7 linked regions of the Homo sapiens genome follow. The protein of the gene in region 6 purifies or fractionates together with the protein of the main gene of each other region. This does not show direct contact. Each region holds a gene or a part of one and is shown on either strand. Other genes may lie near its edges.

Region 1 (2,390 bases), on a different chromosome or scaffold from region 6:
TCTGGACCTGGGATCCTGGCAATCACAACCCTAAGAGGAGAAGGCCCCACATCCGAATTTCCTCCCTTAGGGTTAGGTTGGGCTCCCTGGTCTAATCTCTTACCCCTGGCTGTGGGCTGCAGCTTCCTATCCCTCTCCTGCTCTTCTTCCTGTAGGCGGCTCAGAATTTCCTCCAGGGTCTTCCCAATCTCCACAAAAGATGGGCGCAGTTTGGGATCCATCTGTAGGTATCCACAACAGCCATGAGCTCTGCCCTCCATCTCCCACCCCAAAGATGGCATTTGAGTCTATTTCTGGCATCTTTGAAGATTCAGATGTGCAGCTGAGAGACCTTTTCTAAAGGCCCCAGACAATGAAGGTGATCCCTACAGTTCAGGTCAGGGAAAACACTACTGTCTACTACCCTCCCTGTCTTAGTGTTTGTCTTATCACCTTGTCACAGAACCTTCCAAAAGTATGCTCATATTAGTTTATTCTGTTCTTGAGTTCTGCTCCTAATGTGTTTCTGGGAGGTATCTGAACAAAGCCCACCTACCCCTTGATCCTAACAGGTAAGGTCCAGCCCCAGAGCTACATACATGAAGGCCAAGAAGAGCCTTTCTCATATGCCTCAGGACCAGTTGGATCCACAGTCCAACAATAAAACCGGACCAGAGTTCCATCAACACCTAACGCAAGGAGTGATGGGTCTACCCTACAGGTTGAGGACCAGATAATACAAAACAACTTCTTTCTTTCCTTTGTCCAGAGCTCTGAATAGGTTAGCTGCCAGAGGGAGGAGGAGGAGGTGTGGTTGCTGTCACTACAGTGAAAATGAGGTCCCTCATGAAGCTAATTAGCAGCCTCTCTGTACAGTCCTAACCAGGTGAAAAGGGTTCAGCCAGCCCCTGATGAAAGGCAGAGGGAGAAAGACACTCACGTTACAGCAGTTGAAAGTAAGTTGCAGAAAATCTGGGGGACAGTCTCCCACCATGTGCTGGAAAGCATCATAGTCCAGCCCGAAATTCTGTGGATGGGTATGGAAAGCATAGGTAGACAGTTCATTAATCCCCCCACCCATCCTAGCCTGCTCAGTAGAAGTGGTTGGGAGCTGCCCCTGACAACCAGCAACAGAGAGTTCCAGCAAGTCCATCCCAGGGACAGAACAGTTCCATTGCTTCAAACTAGCCCCATCAGTGGCAATGATCCCCATGCTTGCAGCTCACCTCTGTGCGGGGAAGATAGTCCGGATCGGCCTGGATGCGGGCGATGATCTCGCAGAGGATGATACCATAAGAGAACACATCTGCCTGGTGGGTAGTCGGACTTTGGTTTCCCTCTTAATGGGTTGAGGGGTAGGGTATCTGCCCCTGCCCCTGCCTCCCCTGCACCCCACCATCTAACAGCCCAGGCCTGGGCCATATTGCCCATACTTCATCCCAGTCAGTCACTGGGCAGCTGCCAGGTACCACCACTGCTCTTGGTAGGAACATCTTGGACACTCTGCTAAGAGTGGATTCTAGGGAGAATCAGCCGAGCGCGATGGCTCATGCCTGTAATCCCAGCACTTCAAGAGGCCGAGGTGGGCAGATCACTTCAGGTCAGGAGTCTGAGACCAGCCTGGCCAATATGGTGAAACCCTGTCTCTACTAAAAATAAAAAAATTAGCTGGGCGTGGTGGTGCATGCCTGTAATTCCAGCTACTTGGGAAGCTGAGGCAGGAGAATAGCTTGAACTCGGGAGGCAGTAAGCCGAGATCGTGCCACTGCATTCCAGCCTGAGCAACATAGTGAGACCATCTCAAAAAAAAGAAAAAGAAAAAAGGAGAATCAGGCCTTGAGATCCTCCAAACTTACCTTTTCATTATAGGGCTCATCTCGGAGAACCTCAGGTGCCATCCAGAATGGGGAACCCACCACGGCCAGCTTCTCACTCCCCATGCTGTGGGGTGAGATTATACAGAAAATGAGCTTGCCAATGGCTGGTGCAATGGAATCTTTTGACCATTCCTCCACCTCAAGGATGGGTACAGACGAGGACTAAACAAATTTAGGGAGCTGAGGTTGAGCTGTGACCAAGTCCTGGCCTCTGGGGAGGAGGCTAGAATTTTCCCTTAGCTTCAGCCCCCTGTCCCTTGGACCCCAGCATCCAGTAGGGCTACACACCTGACATCGGGGATCTTCTCAGCCAGGCCAAAGTCAGCTACCACTGCAGAGTAACCATTCTCATCCCTCTTTATCAGGCAGTTCTAGGGTTCCCAGGAAGGAAGAGAAAATAATGTGGCTCAGAAGCGGGGATCAGCCATAGAGTTACCACCCATTCCCCCCTTCCTATCACAGGGCACCTTGTCCTCTGCTCCTTGGTGAACCGCACTCAAGCTGACCCCACTGGTCAGGTCAGGGGCTCTAAGA
Region 2 (3,500 bases), about 190 Mb from region 6:
ATTATCTTTAGCCCATTTGTATGCAGCTGATGTTAACATGTTAATGTACTTGTTCTTAGTCTTTTCCTATGCTTAGTTTTTTAATAGTTAAAATCATACTGCAGACATAATTTTGCATTCTGTTTTTTTCGTTGGATCCTAACCTTTTTTTTTTTTTCCCACTTGAACTCAGATTTTTCTGATGGAGTCCAGTGGTCTTTTCTCTACTCCAATACTGACTCTTTATAACCCTCAGGTACATACCTGAATCTGAACTTCTCTCCTGAATCAGCTTCTTTTCCTTATTTCCCACTGACTGTATCACCCAGTTTGAAATTTCAGAATCATGTTTTGATTCTTTGCCATTTTTGCCTAGGGCATTAGAATCTCTTCTAAGACTTGTCAATTCTTGTCACCTTTTCTCATCCCTTTTCTTTTCCACCGCTATAGTTCAGGTACTTATTATTCGATGCGTGGATTATTGCATGGCGTCGAGAATCTCCACCTGTCCAGTTTATTTTGTACAGGGCCCTCAGATTTATCTTCCTAAAGCCATGCTTTGATTGTGCTATTCACCCTCTCAGATTGCTTCATTGCTTTAATGACTACATTCAAACATCTTAGCCTCTTAACATCTTCTCAAGTCCTCTGTCATCTCTTTCTACTGTCTTACCATGTTCTGACCAAAATGACCTATTTCTTATTCCTCACATTTTCATCTTTTCATCCTGATGACTATTCTCAGTACCCTTCAAGGCTCAACTCAAATATTATTTCCTTTCTAAAAATGTTTACTTCTTTTCATTCCCAGCCCAAAGTATTCTTCCGTGAACACTTGATAGGACCACTCTTGGGGTACTTATTGCAGAATGTTTATTCCAATAGTTATAAGGTGAAAGTAATTATTACAGATCTTACAATTGTTATGTCTTATTTCCCTGAGCCAAATTGGTTTTATTTTTATTTATTTATTTTTTTATGAGACAGAGTTTTGCTTTGTCGCCCAGGCTGGAGTGCAGTGGTATGATCTCAGCTCACTGCAACCTCTGCCTCCTGGGTTCAAGGAATTCTCCTGCCTCAGCCTTCCGACTAGGTGGTGTTACAGGTGTATGCCACCACACCCAGCTAATTTTTGTATTTTTAGTAGAGACGGGTTTCACCATGTTGGCCAGGCCTGTCTCAAACTCCTGACCTCAAGTGATCTGCCCGCTGAGGCCTCCCAGAGTGCTGGGGGATTGCAGGTACCATGCCTAAGCCAAATTATAAACCTCTTGAAGGCTGTATTGAAGGTTTTATTGAAGGCTGAAACTCTCATGTGTCTTTGAAGTCTTGCAGTGGAGATTTCATGATCCAGTAAAATGTGGAGGAAATAAATTAGGGACTAGTATATAGTTGACAACTTAACAACCTTCACTTTCATACCTCTTTTTTTTTTTAAAGAAATGACATTTGAAGACCAAAAGATTGTAATACACAATCTCAGAATAAAAAATTGTAAAATTACTTTGAAAATTAAATATGGCTCACGCCTGTAATCCCAACAGTTTGGGAGGCTGAGGCGGGCGGCTCACTTGAGCTCAGGAGTTTGAGACCAGCCTGGGCAACATGGTGAGAACCCGTCTCTACCAAAAGTACAAAAAAATTAGCCAGGCATGGTGGTGCACGCCTGTGGTCCCAGATACTCGAGAGGCTGAGGTGGGAGGATTGCTGGAGCCTGGGAGGTGGAGGTTGCAGTGAGCGCAGATCACACTACTGGGCTCCAACCTGGGTGACACAGCGAGACCCCGTCTCAAACAAGCAAACAGACAAACAAAAACTCATTATGTTCTTATTTCTCATTTCACCTGAAATAAGTGAAATGTTCTAGACTTTATTGGGAATCTGATAAAGAATTCTGTGCCAGATTCTAGGGTATTTTCAAGTACAAGTCATGTGCATGACCTGTTAATGGTTTTTGAAATCAGTTTAGTCGTGGTCAGGACCAACATTAGAAAAATGAGGAGAAGAGGAAGAGATAATGTAAAATATCAGTACTTCGTGTGATATTGCTTCATGGAACATTTAATTTCAGTTACATATATTTGTCTTAGATTTCAGTGTAAAATTTCTGTTGGTCACAATCAGATGAAAGATACATTTTTAGTGGCTAATCCCTATCTTTGAGAGAATAGGTGGAAAGGTTGACATACATGAAAAGGTGGATGAACAATCAGAAGTAATCATTGCGGGCTATGTCTTTGACAAGTTTTTAGAATCTGAATATAATTAGAATATGTTTAACAGCAGCAGCAGCAGAAAGATATTTATTAGTTGTAGAATCAGTGTAATTCAGGCAAACTCAGTATGTAAAGAAGTGATTTTATAAAATTGGTAGGGCTAGGGTATGTTTACCTTGCAAATCAATTCTTTACTTTGAAAGAGAATTTTCAGGCCAGGTGGTATAGCTCACACCTATAATCCTAGCACTTTGGGAGGCCAGGGTAGGAATATCACTTGAGGCCTGGAGTTCAAGACCAGTCTGGGCAACATAGTGAGACCCTGTCTCTACCAAAAAAAAAAAACAAACAAAAATTAGCTGAACGTGGTGGTGCATGCCCAGCTCCTTGAGAGGCTGAGGTGAGAGGATCGCTTGAGCCCAGGAGGTGGAGGCTGCAGTGAGCTATGATATGCCACTGCACTCCAGCCTGGGCAGCAGAGCGAGCAGCGAGACCCTGTCTCAAATAAGAAAGAGGATTTTCCTTGTTTGTAGTGTGGTGAGTATCCCCCGTGTGGTGCCTGTCACGTGAGAGATCCCTGGGAGCCAAAAACAACAACTGCAAAAAAGAGGATTTACCATATTGCTGTATTTTATTTTTAAGCTGATCTGATGGAGTTGTCTGTGTCTTGACTGGTTCCCCACTTATTTGCTGAAATACATTTTTTCCCCAGGAAGCTGTCCCTGATTGGTACACTCAAACCATTGCACTATAGCGCTTCTAAAGTGGAGGGGGCTGAGCACTTACACCTAAGGGATCTGGGAGTGTAGGCAAAAGTTGAAATCTATTTAACTTTAAAATTTATATGATTGTTTTGCATCCATTATAATAAAGATTTGTTTAGACAGGAATCATCAATAGGTGCTAAATCTAGGGGGATATTTTGGTGAGAAGCAGGTTGTCTGCATGGTCTTAAATTTCCCCCCATATAATGCTTATTACTTGTAAGGGGGGGAAACAGTAACTCAATATGGTGGTGAAATCAGACAACACCTTGTGTGCATGATCAAAATAAATATCACCAATGGATTTGTGTGTCTCTGCATGTGATACCCAGAAAAGAGCACATCAGTTACAGTGTTTTTCAGCCATGAATTCATAGCCTGAATCTAATCATGAGGAAATTTTAAACTCCAGATGGGGAACATCCTATTTTTTAAAACGTCGGGGAGCTGGGTTTTTTTTTTTTTTTTAATATTATAAAGACAAAGTCTGTGGAAACATTCCAGACTAAAGAAGACTTAAGAGATGTGGTAACTAAATGAA
Region 3 (3,500 bases), on a different chromosome or scaffold from region 6:
GCATGTGACAAGAGCAGGGTCTGAGAGAGGAGGGCACTGCTGGAGAACAAGGCTGCCTTGGGATCTTGGACTTTTGGACTTTTCATGGTTGCAACTGGGAACTCCCCCTCTCCTCCTAAAGGACACAGTGAGATCTGCTGAAAACCTTGGGCAGGAAAACTATAGGGGCAGAGGGAGGGAGTACAGGCCAGAAGTACCTTGAGGTTGTGTGACAAAAGTCCCAAGGGGGACTGGGTGCGGTAGCTCATGCATGTAATCCCAGCACTTTGGGAGGCTGAGGCGGGTGGACTGCTTGAGCTCAGGAAGTTAGAGACCAGCCTGGGTAACATGGAGAAACCCCATCTCTGCCAAAAATACAAAAACTTAGCTGGGTGTAGTGATGCGTACTTGTAGTCCTAGCTACTTGGGAGGCTAAGGCAGGAGAATCGCTTGAACCAAGGAAGCGGAGGTTGCAGTGAGCCGAGATCATGCCATTGCACTTCACCCTGGGCAACACAGCGAGACTCTGTCCCCCTAAAAATAAAAAGTCCCAAGGGGAAATAACTGGGGAGGTTTCCTGTAGATGATAGAGGGGTGGACTGTGACTTGAGGAGAGAATCTCTGCTAGCATTGTACCAGGTACCACAAGAGTGTCAGGGGGTGCACCTGGCATGGTGCCCTCTGGGTCTAAGCCTTTCCTTGTACACACTCACACTTTGATTTGAAGTGACCTCTTCCCTCTGAGCCTTCTGGTGTCCAACTCTCCCCTTCTCTAGGACCATGCAGTGCTGGAGGCCGAGAGGCAGAAGATGTCAGCCCTTGTGCGAGGGCTGCAGAGGGAGCTGGAGGAGACTTCAGAGGAGACAGGGCATTGGCAGAGTATGTTCCAGAAGAACAAGGAGGATCTTAGAGCCACCAAGCAGGAGTAAGGACATTGGCCCTCTCAGAAATACCCATGATTCATATGCCACTTCCTTTCTTTTTTTTAATTTTTAATTTTAATTTTAATTTTAATTTATTTTTTGGGACAGAGTTTCGCTCTTGTTTCCCAGGCTGGAGTGTCATGGCACGATCTTGGCTCACTGCAACCTCTGCCTCCTGAGTTGAACAGATTCTCCTGCCTCAGCCTCCCAAGTAGCTGGGATTACAGGCGCATGCCACTACGCCCAGCTAATTTTTGTATTTTTAGTAGAGATGAGGTTTTACCATGTTGGCCAGGCCAGTCTCGAACTCCTGACCTCAGGTGATCTGTCCACCTTGCCTCCCAAAGCACTGGGATTACGGGTGTGAGCCGCTGCGCCTGGCCCCCTTTCTCCTTTTTTTTTTTTTTTGAGATGGAGTCACACTCTGTTGCCCAGGCTAGAGTGCAGTGGTGCAGTCTTGGCTCACTGCAGCCTCCGCCTCCTGGGTTCAAGCGATTCTCCTGCCTCAGCCTCCCGAGTAGCTGGGATTATAGGCGCCTGCCACTAGGCCTGGGTTTTTTGTATTTTTAGTAGAGACGGGGTTTCACCATATTGGCCAGGCTGGTCTTGAACTCCTGACTTCGTGATCCTCCCACCTCGGCCCCCCAAAACGCTGGGATTACAGGCGTGAGCCACTGCACCCAGTCCCTTTCTTCTTTTTTTTGAGACAGGGTCTTGCTCTGTTGCCCAGGCTGGAGTGCAGTGGCACAGTCTGGGCTCACTGCAACCTCCACCTCCTGGGCTCAAGCCATCCTCCCACCTCAGCCTCCCGAATAGGTGGGACTATAGGCATGCACCACCACACTTGGCTAATTTTTGTATTTTTTGTAGAGACGGGGTTTCATTATGTTGCCCAGGCTGGTCTTGAACTCCTGGGCTCAAGTGATCCATCTGCCTTGGCCTCCCAAATTGCTGGGATTACAGGCATGAGCCACCATGCCTGGCCCACTTCCTTTCTATCTATGGTATGCTCTTACTCTCCCATTTCTCAAACTGCTCTTTTCCACGTTCACCTTCCTTCCTCTTGAGAGTTGGTGCCCAGCGTGTTGGCCTCCAGAGAGGTGGCTTTTATTGTCATGCTAACCTCCCCCAGGCATGTGGCCTTACTCTGTTCCCTTTCCCCTTTATTTCACCTTGCCTGGCTCAGACTCCTGCAGCTGCGAATGGAGAAGGAGGAGATGGAAGAGGAGCTTGGAGAGAAGATAGAGGTCTTGCAGAGGGAATTAGAGCAGGCCCGAGCTAGTGCTGGAGATACTCGCCAGGTTGAGGTGCTCAAGAAGGTATTTGGGAATTGGGGGGCAGAATGGTAGGTAGGGGTGATGAACACCTGCCTTACCTCTCCATGAGGGCCTTCTTGCTAGTGGGGCTATCTCCTGTGTGCTTGGTTTCCAGGCCTCATCCTGCCTGCTCAGCTTGATCTCTTTCCAGCACAGCAGCACCAGTCTCCTCATTGAGCATAGAGGTTTCTAATGGAAAGTGCTCTCAGAACCCAGGTTGGGGTATAGCCAGAGGCTGCTGGCCGACTCCCAAGAGACGTCATGGGTAGCAGCATTTAGGTGGATTTGTGAAACTCCAGGATGATTTTTGCAGGCTCAGAAATCTAATTTGGTCAGCATGGCAAAAGCTGCTTTGTCTTTCAGAGGGGTCTCTAACTACATTTATGAAAAAATGTTTACCATTAGAATTTCAGTTTATTAATTTACATTGAGAAATATCATCACATGGACTGGAATACTTGTGTTGGCATGGCCTGGTTACTAATGTAACAAAACTAATTAGCAAAAGAAAAATAGCAGAGTATATGGTATTACATTGAAGATTCACTACATATTATATAACCCTTTAGCCTAATTATGGTACTTTCTGAATTTCAGAAGTAGCTAATAGCTAATAATTAGAACCAGAACTCCTATTTTAATTTTCTTTTTAAAAGAAATCAGAGCTGTGCCAGCATTTATTGTGTCACACATTTTGGTTTTATACACACACACACACACACACACACACACACGAAAGACAAGTGGCAGCTGCAGGGATTGTGCTGACCTGTTCTGTCAAAGTCTCTCCAGGTTGCTCTTGCATGCAGTTGGAGATCCCATGGCCACACTATATATATATATATATTTTTTTTTTTTTTTTTTTTTTTGAGACGGAGTCTCACTCTGTCACCCAGGGTGGAATGCAGTGGCGTGATCTCGGCTCACTGCAAGCTCCGCCTCCTGGGTTCACGCCGTTCTCCTGCCTCAGCCTCCCGAGTTGCTGGGACTACAGGCGCCCACCACCACGCCCGGCTAATTTTTTTTGTATTTTTACAAAAAAAATACACGTACTCAGTGTTTCACCGTGAAACATGGTTTCACCGTGTTAACCAGGTTGGTCTTGATCTCCTGACCTTGTGATCCGCCCTCCTTGGCCTCCCAAAGTGCCGGGATTACAGGCGTGAGCCACCGCACCCAGCCTCACACTGTATTTTTTTTAAACAACCAGCCTTACTAGCCATACCTTCATGTACTCTCCCTTCATGGTATTTTTTTTTTTATGGAGTTATATTTTACATGC
Region 4 (3,500 bases), on a different chromosome or scaffold from region 6:
TGGTCAGAGCAAGCCCCTTGCCAGTGAAGGCAGCAGCTTCTGTAGCTCATCATGGTGGTTTTCCAAGCTTGGGCTTTTGCAGAAGTCTCCAGAAATGTCTTCTTCAGTGGCAAGGGTATAATCCATAGATGGCATCTGGGTTTCAACTCACAAATCAACTCCAGTCAAGTGGGGATGGGGCCTGGAGTGCCAGTCTGTGCTTTCCACCATCCTGCTCCCTGCTTTGTTGACTCTGCAGCTCTGCCCCCAGTGCCTGCCTTTTCACTTAGTGCAGCCTTGGATGAGGGCTTTCCCCTCTGGAGGCCTGCTGTAGAATAATGCCATGATCCTTCCAGCCCAGCCCAAGCCAGTGTCTTACATGGAAGCCAATGGGATGATGATACTTGCAAATCTGAGGCATGCAGCTGGCCTCATCCTGGGAGAGCCTGGCCTGGGGAAGTGACAGTGGCTGGCCTTACCCGGGGTGGGGGCGGGGAACAGAAGCCATTTCAGGACCCTGGTTACCGTTCAGATTCCCGGCTCTCATAGTTTTGCGTATTCTCCCCTGTTGGGTCAGTGATATTAAAACTAAAATAGAAGAGAATAAATAAAACATGGACAATGTGCAAAGGAAGAATGATTGAAGGATTGCCTAATCTTTTAGAGTATTTATGCTGGTGACAGTTATTGATCTATTGGATTGAGTAAATTTTGCAGCCTAGAGATTCACCACAAAAATGGGCTGTTAATCTCAAGAGGTGCCATTAATTTCCTACCCTGAAAGTGTGGTTGGTGGGGAAAAGAGGGCCCCTGGAAACGGGAATATAAAGGACAGTTCCTGGGAAAACGCATGATTTATCAAGCTGCTGAGGTAAGCCAAGTAACTGTAAGAGACGTATAGATCTCAGCCGCTTCCCCATTCAAATAAATCCCGTATTTCAAATGGAAAATGACCATTCCTGTAATATAAATAATTTTTCCATAAATATCGGAAAACATATTTCTTCTGGATAGCAGTGCTCTCCACCCCACCAATCTCATTCCCTGTTCCTGCCTTCTCCTTTTCTTCGGTCACTGTGAATAGGAATAGAAAGATGATCTGGCAGCCTCTTCACATGGCTTCAGTTATAGATGAAAGAATGCCCCAGAAACAATAGGATTTGGGCAAGCGGTGGCTGCTCTCCCCCATGAGATGTGGGCTTTGAGTGTGTGTGTGTCCTCTGCCTGGGTGACTCAGACAGAGTGACCGACATGAGGAGAGCTGCTGGCCTCACTTGGTGGCTTCTCCCTGGGGGCTGCTTCCTGGCCTCTCTCCAGGGTCCGAGGCCCCCCCAGCCCCTGACATGGCACCTGCTTTCCATAGCAGCCAGAGCAGCAGCCTTGGAGAGAAAGGGCCACGGCCCACAGGGAGCCTTTGTCCCCTCCTCATCCCCCTCCTCGTCCCCCTCCTCGTCCCCCTCCTCGTCCCCCTCCTCGTCCCCCTCCTCGTCCCCCTCCTCATACCCCTCCTCGTACCCCTCCTCGTCCCCCTGCTGCCTTGCTCGGGATGCCCAGCCAGGCTGCAGGCCCGTGGCTCCTTGTTGGTGCCTGAGCTGGCCAGGCTGTGCTGAGTGTGTTCCGGTCCTCCGATGAGATCATTGTTTAGGTTTTGCCGGACAAAAAAGTGCTCTTCTGGTCTCTTTAGTGACTCAGTCTCTTCGTGAGGTTGGGGGTGGGCAGGGGCTTTGTCTCCATGGGAGGAAAGCTAACTAGCCCTAGCAGGGTTTTAGCGTGCACCTACTGTGTGCTGCCCTCTGTGGCGAGGGGCCTTGGTCTTTGTAGCGTGCTGGCCCTGCATGGCAGGCCCTGGATTCTATTTTGTATGAAAGGTAAAAAGTAGATGGGGCAGGGGCTGTGGCCATGGTCAGTGCTCTTGAGCCTGGGCACACAGCACAGGGCCTGCGGGGTGCACTGTCGGCCCCTCAACCTTTATCACTTTGGAAGCCAGGGCCATGCAGCCCTAAGTGGCAGAACCAGTGTGGGAACCAGGGCCTGGCCGGGTCCCAGCCATGTTCTTTATTTATTTATTTTGTCGAAACGGGGTCTCACTATGTTGCCCAGGCTGTTCTTGAACTCCTGGGCTCAAGCGATCTTCCGTCTTGCCCTCCATAAGCACTGGGGTTACAGGCTGAGCCACTGCCCCTGGCCTCATGCTCTTTTCCAAGTCAAAGCTGCCTGCTTGGTTCGTGTTGGAAAGTTTTCTGTTCTCAGCCCCTGCTTCCCCGTCCTGCTGCAGGCTCAGCCGGAGATGGGCCCTGACGTGCTGGTGCAGACGATGGGGGCCCCGGCCTTGAAGATCTGCGACAAACCTGCCAAAGTGCCTTCCCCACCGCCTGTCATAGCTGTCACAGCGGTCACCCCGGCTCCGGAGGCACAGGACGGGCCCCCCAGCCCCCTGAGTGAAGCCTCTAGCGGGTACTTCTCCCACAGCGTCTCCACCGCGACCCTGTCGGACGCCCTGGGCCCCGGCCTGGACGCTGCGGCCCCGCCGGGGTCCATGCCCACCGCCCCTGAGGCCGAGCCCGAGGCGCCCATCAGCCACCCCCCACCGCCCACGGCCGTCCCCGCCGAGGAGCCCCCTGGCCCCCAGCAGCTCGTGAGCCCCGGTCGGGAGCGCCCCGACCTCGAGGCCCCGGCGCCCGGCTCCCCGTTCCGCGTCCGGAGGGTGCGGGCCTCGGAGTTGCGCTCCTTCTCGCGCATGCTGGCTGGGGACCCCGGCTGCTCCCCGGGGGCCGAGGGGAATGCGCCGGCCCCGGGCGCCGGGGGACAGGCCCTGGCCTCTGATTCCGAGGAAGCTGACGAGGTCCCGGAGTGGCTCCGAGAGGGCGAGTTCGTCACCGTGGGCGCCCACAAAACGGGCGTGGTGAGATACGTGGGGCCTGCCGACTTCCAAGAGGGCACGTGGGTCGGCGTGGAGCTCGACCTGCCCTCAGGTGGGTACCGGGCACTCCGGGCTCCAGGGTGGTGCCGGGGGTCTGGGGAAGCAGGAACGTGGCCGGCCTGGGAGGGGACAGGGTCCGGGCAGGAGAGGGAGGGGCCGGGAGGCAGCGGCTTGGCTGAAGCTGCGGGAGCGGCTGGGCCTGCAGGGGTGAGGCTGGGGGCAGGGCTAGTCCCTGGAGACGACATGGAAAATTCCTGATGATTTTGGCTACAAAGATCCTGTACCCATCCCCCCATCGCCATGGCTGTTCCCGCTTTTGTTCCGGTCTCCCCTGCCCTCTGCACTCCCTGGGCTCTGCTTTCTCATCCTTCACCTTAGAGCATCTCCCCTTTGCCGTTCCAGGAGGCTCTTCCTCACCCCATCCGGACACATCTCGCTGGCCTCTGACTCGCCCTCATTTGGCAGTTTTGCCAGTTTCCATTTCATAGATTCAGCAAAAGAACCATTCTCCCGCCACCCAGCCCAGGCCTGGGTCCAGATGGAGAAGGGTCTGTTCCCGCACGAGGCGGGCCGGTTGTGCCTTAGTGGCTGGCCTGCACCT
Region 5 (3,500 bases), on a different chromosome or scaffold from region 6:
GCATAATGACGTGTATCTACCAATATCACACAGAGTAGAGTAGTATCACTGACCTAAAAATCCTTTTGTTTTGCACCATTTTTTAACCTCTTAGAACCTGAGCCAGCAGAAGAGTACACTGAGCAAAGTGAAGTTGAATCAACAGAGGTATGATTTTAATTTAATGCTGCCTTTACTTTGCTGCCTTTCAAACAAATGTCTCAAACATTTACTTTGCTTTGCAGTATGTAAATAGACAGTTCATGGCAGAAACACAGTTCACCAGTGGTGAAAAGGAGCAGGTAGATGAGTGGACAGTTGAAACGGTTGAGGTAAGAGTTCTCTGTATTGCAAAGTTGTTGTCTTTGTCTTCAGTTAGTAATTTTTATCTCTACTGAGAACAAATTAAGATTGTTTTTTGCATTATTAGTACATTTATTATAATAACAGACTCATTACACCAGACTGTTACTTCCAAAAAATGAATGTTTATCCCTGTGGATGTTTAATAGGATCCCTGCTTTGCTGAACCAATCTAAAAAAATTATTTTATACAAAGTTATCTGTGGATTAATCTGTTACCATGATTTGTCTCTTACTGAAATTAGGTTGCTCTGTAAAAATCTGGGCTCCCACACTGATAGCTGTGTTTTGGGGTATCATCTTGCACTCCTCCTTTACCCTAATGCTGTTTGGTCACCAGGCTGTAGACTTCCTCTAGCGTTTTCTAATGCTGTCTCTCAACTGATAATGATGATTTTTTTCGGGTCCTCATGTCTAGTTCAGTGACTCTCTTCATATTACTCCTCTCTGACTGCCTCCAGACCATCCTATTCATTGTCACAACTTAATTATTGGAAAAGTTAGCTTTAAGTTACTTGTACTTGAGGCTCTCAGTGATGCCTTGTTACCTGTAAGATACAGTCTAAAAACCTTACCAACTGGTCCTGGCCTTCCTTTTGATCTTCTTTTAGATGTCTTTCTTTACACCCCCAAGGTGCAGGAAAATAGCTGTAAGCTGAGGGTAATATGCTTTTCCTTTTAATATGTTATTCTTATATCAAGACCATTCTCTTGGCCGGGCACGGTGGTTCATGCCTGTAACCCCAGCACTTTGTGGGGCTGAGGCAGGTGGATCACATGAGGCCAAGAGTTAGAGACCAGCCTGGCCAGCATGGTGAAACCCAGTCTCTACTTCAAAAACAAACAAAAACCTGGGCATGGTGGTGCATGCCTGTAATCCCAGCTACTTGGGAGGCTGAGGTACGAGAATCACTTGAACTGGGGAGACAGAAGTTGTAGTGAGCTGAGATCGTGCCACTGCATTCCAACCTGGTTGACAGAGACTCTGTCTCAAGAAGAAAAAAACCCATTTTCCAAAGAGATTGCAAAGTTTTTTTTTTTTGAGAGTCTCACTCTTGCCCAGTAGAGATGGGGTTTCACCATTTTGGCCAGGCTCGTCTTGAATTCCTGACCTCAAGTGATCTGCCCGTTTCAGCCTCCCAAAGTGCTGGGATTACAGTCATGAGCCACTGCGCCTGGCCCATAGATGTTATAATTGTGCCAGCAACTTCATCCCTCTGTTGGAGCACCAAAATGTCCCATTGGTAAGGTAAAGAGAGTAGGCACTTACCCCAGAAAGGTACTTGGGATGAAAATACTGCTCAGGAAGTCCCAACAAAATAGTGTATATTTGCTGAATTAAAGAATGCAGTTCAGAAATGTTATAGGAGGATTAGAAGAGAAATCAATCAAAAAGATTAGTAGAGGTGATTTACAGTTGTTCCTTGTTATACCAGGGGCATTGGTTTTAGGACACTCCCACACACCGAAGTCTGCTCATACTCAAGTTGTGCCATGTATCTGCGGGACCCACATATATACAGGTGTTTCACATCTCAAGAGTACTGGAGGATAAGTGAACCTGTGCAGTTCAAGCCCATGTTGTTCAAATGTCAGCTGTATATATGAGGTGTACAAACCCATTGAGCCTTGACTAAGTCGATGGGATGTATGTTTTTAGGGGAGCCAGGTAATAGGGATGTATAGCATGGATGTAGAAGTAGAAATGAACTATTAACATATTTGTTTTATTGAACATAGAATGCAAGGTAAATATTGACATAGTAGGAAGAAGTTGGGAAGCAGTATACAGTGCTTTGTAGTTAAGTATTTTTTGGATTTTATTTGAGAAGAGCATACTACTTGCCACTGTGCCAGTGTGGTTTGTTCTTTGTATCTAGTAGGTGGGCCTTTCTAAAGGCTATCCACATGAGATTCCACGAATTTTTGGAGCATCCTGAAGTTGGTATTACACAGATTGTTGGTTTCGCTTTGGTAGTGATTTTTATCTGTGTTGTTTATAAAGGGAATAGCTGATTTTGCCTAGTTTCAACCAGTATGACTTGTCCAGTTTTAAATCCAGACAGAATAATATAAATTTGATGTAATAAAAGATAGGATTTCCTTGCAGAGCAGGGAATTACTAAGAACAATAAGCAGAGGAAATTATTAGAGCTGGGAAAAGGCTAATAGAGTGAGCTTTGGCTTCTGTAGCAGTTTAGATGAGTTGGTAAAGCTTGATCCTATGGTGTTGGCTGAGAAAATGGAATGGGAAAAACCCAAATCTTGATGATAATAATAGCTAACATTTCTTGAGTGCTATGTACCAGGTTGTGAGATAGATATATATTTGACATAGATATATAAATCCAGTTACTATAGAAGGCATAACAGTTTTAAGAAAAATACATTATTTTAGGATGTAAACACAGGTAATCTTTCTTTGAAAGCAGCTTATAAAATAAATCTGAGGCTGGGCATGGTGGCTCATGCCTGTATTCCCAGCACTTGGGATGCCAAGGCGGGTGGGTCACAAGGTCAGGAGTTCAAGACCAGCCTGGCCAATATGGTGTGAAACCCTGTCTCCGCTAAAAATACAAAAATTAGCCGGGTGTGTTGATGGGTGCCTGTAATCCCAGCTACCTGAGAGGCTGAGGCAGGAGAATTGCTTGAACCCGGGAGATGGATGTTGCAGTGAGTCGAGATCCCGCCACTGCTGTCCAGCCTGGGTTACAGAGCTAGATTCCGTCTCGAAAGAAAAAAAAATAAATAAATAAGTAAATCAACATGAAATGCTACATAGTGGTCTTATGGAACTGAAACACTGTAGAAGTGATGACATTTTTCAGAATGTTAAATTTGGCATAAATGTAATTCATTTGGGTAACTGCATTAAAGCCCGTTCTGTTTATAGTATAGATGGTTTATGTAGTGTGGGGGACCCATCATGGTGGTAGTGAGTGGAGCTTTTTTGCTCTCCTATTCCTTCTAATCCTTTTTTTTCTACCTTAGGTGGTAAATTCACTCCAGCAGCAACCTCAGGCTGCATCCCCTTCAGTACCAGAGCCCCACTCTTTGACTCCAGTGGCTCAGGCAGATCCCCTTGTGAGAAGACAGCGAGTACAAGACCTTATGGCACAAATGCAGGGTCCCTATAATTTCATACAGGTATGTTCATT
Region 6 (3,500 bases):
ACAATAAAAAAAGAAGTAATTTTGCATTTCATGTTTTTATTCTCCTTTTTAATACTGTTAGCGATTTACATTTTTATTTGCAACAGCAGAATTTAATCCCATCAAGTTAATTTTATGTAGCTACTGTGTATTTACATTCCATTTAGTATACTGGATATTTATAACTATTATCTAAAAACAGGAATCCTCAGCTAGCTTCTGTTTTTATGCAACAGCAAAGGCGCCAGCAGAGGGAGTTGATGAAAGCTCTTCAGCAGCAGCAGCAACAGCAACAGCAGAAACTCTCAGGTTGGGGGAATGTCAGCAAACCTTCAGGTACCACGAAATCTCTTCTGGAGATCCAGCAGGAAGAGGCCAGGCAAATGCAAAAGCAGCAGCAGCAGCAGCAGCAACACCAGCAACCAAACAGAGCTCGTAACAATACGGTGTGTGCATTTTCCTAAGCTGTCGTTGTATGGACTAGTATTATCTTTTCTGACTGTCTTCTTATCTTTTTAACATGATTCACGATAATCATTTTTCTCTTTTTCTTTAACAGCATTCCAACCTGCACACCAGCATTGGGAATTCTGTTTGGGGCTCTATAAATACTGGTCCTCCTAACCAGTGGGCATCTGACCTAGTCAGTAGTATTTGGAGTAATGCTGACACTAAAAACTCCAACATGGGATTCTGGGATGATGCAGTGAAAGAGGTGGGACCTAGGAATTCAACAAATAAAAATAAAAACAACGCCAGTCTCAGGTAGGGCTCAAAATGACCACACCTATGCACCTTGGTTGGTTGGGAGGTGGGGATGGAGGAAGTGGGATGTTGGGTGGGCAGGAAAAGGTAGTTATTGAGTTTTTGCTTACCGTTTTCATCTGTGTTCAAGCACATGCAGTCATAATTATGGTGATTGCTTTCTTCCCCATAGAAACACATTCGTATTATTTCTTGGGGCTCCTGCTGAGCACTTATTCTATCGCCTAGCACATGGTAACCACTTAATAAATATTAGGAATAGTATAATGTTTTTGTTGTGTTGTTGAACATTTCTCCAAGGTATTCTCTAGATACCTTAGCATTTTTCCTATATTTGTATTTTTAAGTAATTTATGCTATTAATATGAGTATTATAAAATACCTCTGTAATGACCTTAAACCTATTTATTTTTATAAGTTAGTTACATTTTCATCTTCATCTTTCTTTCTTCAATATACAGTGTTGTTGAACGAGCATGGGTTTTAGTGTTAAATACATGAACTCAAATCCCAGCACTACCACTTATTAGCTGTGTGACCTTGGGCAAGAGGGAACCTCTTTGGGCCTCAGTTCCCTCATCGGTAAAATGAAGATAATAATAACAACTTTATGCATGTAATTGTAAAGATTAAATGAATACATGATAAGTAGTAAGTGCCTGGCACATAGTAACTACTTAATAAATGGTAGTGTTGTCAGATTGTTTCTTCTTGATTTAGGGCCTAACATATTATGAATAGAACAATAAATTTCTGTTAGTTTATTGAGCATCTTTGCCAGGCACTGTGCTGTAGGCCTTTTCATAGAACATCTTTATTACTTATGATAACCCAAAAAAGTTGTTAGTACCGTTTTACAGATGAGGAGACTGAGGCTTAGTAAAATTAAACAACTTACCTAAGGACACGTAGGAAGAATTTCATCATTTTTTCTAAGTAGAACCCCTGTATCCACAAATTAGGATATATTAACTGAGGCTAGATTTTAAGGGTATATCCAATCCAAATATTTGAATTTTTTTCTTTTTTGGAGCCAAGCATTGGATTATTTACTGGGCATCCATCCAGTATTGCCAAGACATTATTTATGGTGTTGTACTATAATCATATAGTAACAGTTTCTGGGAATATAATATCACCCTATTGTTTTGCTTTAGTAAATCTGTAGGTGTGTCTAACCGGCAGAATAAGAAAGTAGAAGAAGAAGAAAAGTTGCTGAAGCTCTTTCAGGGAGTAAATAAAGCCCAAGATGGATTTACGCAGTGGTGTGAACAGATGCTTCATGCCCTTAATACGGCAAATAACTTGGATGGTAAGAATTGGGGAGGGAAACCCGGCATGTGGAATGACAGAGCAGGACCCACAGAGAGGCTGGCAAATTTGAACAGTGGGCCAAAAGTCAAAAGATGAAATCTAAGGAGGTCAACTGCTGCACCTGCCATAGGAACTTGACTCTTTAATAGTATTACTTGTGAGAAAAGTCCAGTAATACTAAACTCAAATAGATTATTGGTGGTTGTCAAAAAGTAAATGCCATCTTAGACTGCCTTAATGATACACAGGACAGAGGAGGTCTTAGTTCCATACTGTTCATTTTATGGGGAACATTGCCAGCTATGTCAAGTTAAAAAAAGTAACTCTCATGCTGGGGACAAAGGTCAACCTGGACAAGTGATGGCTGAAGTGATGTGACATCATTCCCTTTCTACCTTTGGGGGAGGGAATGGGAATTGTGATAAAGCAAGTACACTTATTTTGTGTAAGATAAAACTAGGACCAATGTGCAGAAGTGAAAAGGCTTTGGCACAGTTTAGAGAAAAACTTGCTCATGGTTAGCTGTTTACAAACAGAACTGTCTCCCATCCCTGAATATTTGAAGAGAGACTGGTCAACATGTCAGGATTCCCCTAACTAATAGGCTGAATTGAATTAATCCACCTCTGATACCCTGTCTAAAGCCAAGAAACTGTGAAAAATAGCAGTAAAGGAATTAAAGAGTTCCTTTGCAGCAGTGTAACAATATCTAATGGTTTAAAAGCCTACAGAGAAAACAATTTTAAATAACAGTAATGGCTGCCATGCATTAAGCACCTACCATGTGTGCTAGGCACTCTCTTGGAGTTAACATGCAGCATCCCAGTTATTTGATTAGCAGTGATTTTTAAAGATACCTTTACAAGATAGGTGATATTATCCCCATTTTATAAATTAGGAAACAGAGGCTCAGAATGGTTAAATAACTCATCAAGGTCACACAGCCAGCAAATTTCAGAGTCAGGTTTTAAACCCATGTTTGTCTAACTCTGATACTCATGCTTTTCTCCTATACCACACACTGCTTACATTTTCCATTTGATTTCTCTCTAAAAAATCTCAGTGGATTGAAAGTTCCAGGAAGATATAGCTGTTTTCTTTAGTGTATGTTGTAGTGCCTGACACATATCATAGGAGTTAATAAATACTGATTGAATTTGAGGGTTCTTAAGGAAAGAATGAATCCCCAAATTACTTCAGCCTTAGTCAAGTAACTGTTTCAGTCAGTATAACATTCAGTGAAATTAAACATGTGGTATGGATGTTGTGATTATAGTGTTTTTTTCATTTCTATAGGGTAGATAAAAGAATATTTAAACACAATTGCTGCATACTTACCAAGTGTCTGTCATTAATGTTTGATTAGGTATAAAGATACATTAAAAATGGAAACTGATTTTTGTAAGTTCTCTTTCATTATTTCATTGTTACCCTTATCTTCT
Region 7 (2,617 bases), on a different chromosome or scaffold from region 6:
TCCCAGAACGCCTCGGACAAGCTGAAGAAGTTCACAGAATGGGTCTTCAACACCATAGACATGAGCTAGGGAAGGCTGAGGAGGACAGGAGAAGGGCCCAGACACTCCCTCCAGTGAGTGTCCTGCAGCCCTTATTCCCTCCATAGAAAGCATCCTCAGAGCACCTTCCCTGGCTTCCTACTCTGCCCCCTTTCGGGGAGTGCACAACACAATAGTTGCAGATCAACAATCATCACCTGCCTTTTGTAGAAAAGAAAAACAAAAAAAGTAAATAAAAATTTTAAACAGTAAAATAAAAGTTTAACTGCTAAAATGTGAATGTCTTTATTTTTTTGCACAATATCTTTATCTGTTATGTATTTAAGAAGAAACTGGGCCTTGGACCAGGGCGCCCCCTGGCCCATCCGCCTCTATTCCCATCAGCTTTCTTATCAACTTCAGGTAACCCAAGCTTTCCCTTGTTATTCTAACAAATATCATTATTCCTAGAAAAAGAATGTTTTTATAACTTGTTTGGGGAGTAGAGAGGGATATTTCCTTACCTTCTTCCCTAAAATGCCTGGAGAGGGAGTTGCTTTGAGAAAATGCCTACCTCCCTTGAATGACTCGTGCATGAGCTAGTGCTGTCTGTACCTGTCCTCCAGAGATCAGCAGGACCGGAGTTAAATATTTAACAGCAAGTCTGTAAACCAGAGCAGCTCTGACAGTGCCTGCAGGCCACACCCCTTCTCAGTCCTGCATTGTGAGGTCATTTCCTGCTTCTCCCTTTCCCCAGGAAGATGGTCCCACTTGTGCTGCAAGACTCTTTTTTGTTTGGCTTAATTGAGCCCCACTAAATTGGAATCAATCTCTCTTACAGCTTCCTGGCTCCAAACATTAATTGATTTCAGAATTCCCCCAAACTAAAACCTTATCTGTCTGCATTTTGAATGCATTTTGGTCAAAAGTATACGTTTTAAAGATTTTTAAAGATAAAAATGTGGCACAACTGGTTTTTTTAGCTTGCTGAAAATGACCATATCTCTAAATTAATCTTTCTCTCCAGAGCAAGACTTCACCAGTATTTGTAACTAGGAGAAGCTAACAGTGAATGTTTAATTGTGAATTTTAATCATTGCTTGTTAGGAATAATGACTGTGATACTAGAATGGGCTTTTGAAACCTGCATGTCCCAGTGTGAAATTTCAGCACGGCATTTTCTGCATCCTTTCATGGCCATCCAAAGGATTCCGCTGCAGAAATTATTGATGTGCTATTTTTGCTGTCTTGTGATGCAGGCTGCTTTGGGCCCCTGGGTCACTCTTCCAAGGCTGCTGTAGAGCACAGAGACATGGGGCTGGCCAGTGTTGACTGACCTGAGGAGACCCCTTTGTTTGTTGCCTTCATAACTGTCACTAAACCGACCCCTCTGCCCTTTCAGTGGCAACTCTGGTCTAAGGGAACATTCAGCACTCTAGCGGCATCTGATTGGAAGTTCCCTCACCCAAGTAATCTCAATTCCTTCCTCTCTCCATCCCTGAAAGAAACAGGATGGATTTTCCTCTCTTCTCCCTGCTACATTCACTACCAGATTTTTATGCTACAGTTTCATTCTTGATTGTGATTTCTCCATGGAATTTTTTTTTTCTGGTGACATTTCTATCATGGAAATAGGAAGATTTCGGAGTGCTTTGTGAAGATTTCAATTGTCTGTCTCTTTCTCTCTTTGACTTGTATGAAGGAGATTGTACATTGCCTGATATCTCTTTGTAAATGAGAAATATTGCTAACATCCAAGCATTCTGAAGTCTTGCTTATCCTTCTGAGTTTAGTTCTCATTTTGTTTTACATTTTGTTTGGGGACTTGGGGCAAGCTATTTATTAGAGTTTTGCAACAGAGTTCTTGTTTGAAGCCTCTAAAGACTACCTGTAAAATTCAAAGAATAAAATTCATTTTAAACGCTCTTTTAAAACACTTTGGTATTATTGCTTGAGGTTTGCTTATTTGAAAGACCACCCAATAACTCATTGACCCTCCTTGCATCCGAATTTTTTCATCAAGCTTTGTTAACACTAATGATGATTCTTGAAAATTTCTGTCCTTCTCAGAATGTTAATAAACTTTTTTACTCTGTCCACATGTCGATAGAGAATTACTATTTTGCCTTCTCTGCTTATGATTTAATATTTGCAGAGCACTTCATAATTAGCTTCCCCTTCATTATCCACGCATGGATTTTTCATAACATTGTTATTCTCTGAGACCAGCACATTTTTGGGCTGCATCTCCCAGCTCTCAATGTCAGATGTTGTGTGCCCAGGGAATACAAATGCCTGTTAATATTAGGCTGTGCAAAATATAATTAGAAAAGTTAATCTACTGAAAAAAAAATCAGTGCATTCCAAAGTCAAACCGAACCAATTTTTTTTTAATCTACCACGTCACTGTTCCTCTCCAGCGGCGCAGCTAATTGAGTGCTGACAGTAGAGTTTCTTCCTTTTATTTGGTTCAACAGTTCTACAGATTCCAGAGTTCTTGGACTAGCATAAGAATGGATGCCACAAAATATTCCAATTAACAAGCTAAAAAGGTCTGTTTAGACCATGATTCCTACATGGTTCGGAGGGCTTATACGTT

Evidence for each region.
Region 1: the proteins of GIGYF2 (region 6) and TESK2 purify together in Homo sapiens (affinity purification with mass spectrometry, with the first as the bait; one large-scale study listed by BioGRID). This does not show direct contact.
Region 2: the proteins of GIGYF2 (region 6) and EML4 fractionate together in Homo sapiens (co-fractionation; one large-scale study listed by BioGRID). This does not show direct contact.
Region 3: the proteins of GIGYF2 (region 6) and CGN purify together in Homo sapiens (affinity purification with mass spectrometry, with the first as the bait; one large-scale study listed by BioGRID). This does not show direct contact.
Region 4: the proteins of GIGYF2 (region 6) and KIF13B purify together in Homo sapiens (affinity purification with mass spectrometry, with the first as the bait; one large-scale study listed by BioGRID). This does not show direct contact.
Region 5: the proteins of GIGYF2 (region 6) and CAPRIN1 purify together in Homo sapiens (affinity purification with mass spectrometry, with the first as the bait; one study listed by BioGRID). This does not show direct contact.
Region 7: the proteins of GIGYF2 (region 6) and SIPA1L1 purify together in Homo sapiens (affinity purification with mass spectrometry, with the first as the bait; one large-scale study listed by BioGRID). This does not show direct contact.

The regions. Positions count from the first base shown.
Region 1 is NC_000001.11:45,345,774-45,348,163, forward strand, and holds part of TESK2 (dual specificity testis-specific protein kinase 2), read right to left. Parts: intron 2,228-2,390; coding exon 2,145-2,227; intron 1,921-2,144; coding exon 1,836-1,920; intron 1,290-1,835; coding exon 1,206-1,289; intron 1,007-1,205; coding exon 920-1,006; intron 222-919; coding exon 104-221; intron 1-103. UniProt on the Homo sapiens protein: Dual specificity protein kinase activity catalyzing autophosphorylation and phosphorylation of exogenous substrates on both serine/threonine and tyrosine residues. Phosphorylates cofilin at 'Ser-3'. May play an important role in spermatogenesis.
Region 2 is NC_000002.12:42,175,853-42,179,352, forward strand, and holds part of EML4 (echinoderm microtubule-associated protein-like 4), read left to right. Parts: intron 1-3,500. UniProt on the Homo sapiens protein: Essential for the formation and stability of microtubules (MTs). Required for the organization of the mitotic spindle and for the proper attachment of kinetochores to MTs. Promotes the recruitment of NUDC to the mitotic spindle for mitotic progression.
Region 3 is NC_000001.11:151,524,887-151,528,386, forward strand, and holds part of CGN (cingulin), read left to right. Parts: intron 1-755; coding exon 756-904; intron 905-2,088; coding exon 2,089-2,221; intron 2,222-2,944; exon of another isoform or gene 2,945-3,052; intron 3,053-3,500. UniProt on the Homo sapiens protein: Probably plays a role in the formation and regulation of the tight junction (TJ) paracellular permeability barrier.
Region 4 is NC_000008.11:29,071,071-29,074,570, reverse strand, and holds part of KIF13B (kinesin-like protein KIF13B), read left to right. Parts: intron 1-2,254; coding exon 2,255-2,951; intron 2,952-3,500. UniProt on the Homo sapiens protein: Involved in reorganization of the cortical cytoskeleton. Regulates axon formation by promoting the formation of extra axons. May be functionally important for the intracellular trafficking of MAGUKs and associated protein complexes.
Region 5 is NC_000011.10:34,082,731-34,086,230, forward strand, and holds part of CAPRIN1 (caprin-1), read left to right. Parts: intron 1-94; coding exon 95-147; intron 148-224; coding exon 225-311; intron 312-3,333; coding exon 3,334-3,489; intron 3,490-3,500. UniProt on the Homo sapiens protein: mRNA-binding protein that acts as a regulator of mRNAs transport, translation and/or stability, and which is involved in neurogenesis, synaptic plasticity in neurons and cell proliferation and migration in multiple cell types.
Region 6 is NC_000002.12:232,843,831-232,847,330, forward strand, and holds part of GIGYF2 (GRB10-interacting GYF protein 2), read left to right. Parts: intron 1-215; coding exon 216-425; intron 426-538; coding exon 539-744; intron 745-1,901; coding exon 1,902-2,056; intron 2,057-3,500. UniProt on the Homo sapiens protein: Key component of the 4EHP-GYF2 complex, a multiprotein complex that acts as a repressor of translation initiation. In the 4EHP-GYF2 complex, acts as a factor that bridges EIF4E2 to ZFP36/TTP, linking translation repression with mRNA decay.
Region 7 is NC_000014.9:71,739,093-71,741,709, forward strand, and holds the end of SIPA1L1 (signal-induced proliferation-associated 1-like protein 1), read left to right. Parts: coding exon 1-69; 3' UTR 70-2,117; downstream 2,118-2,617.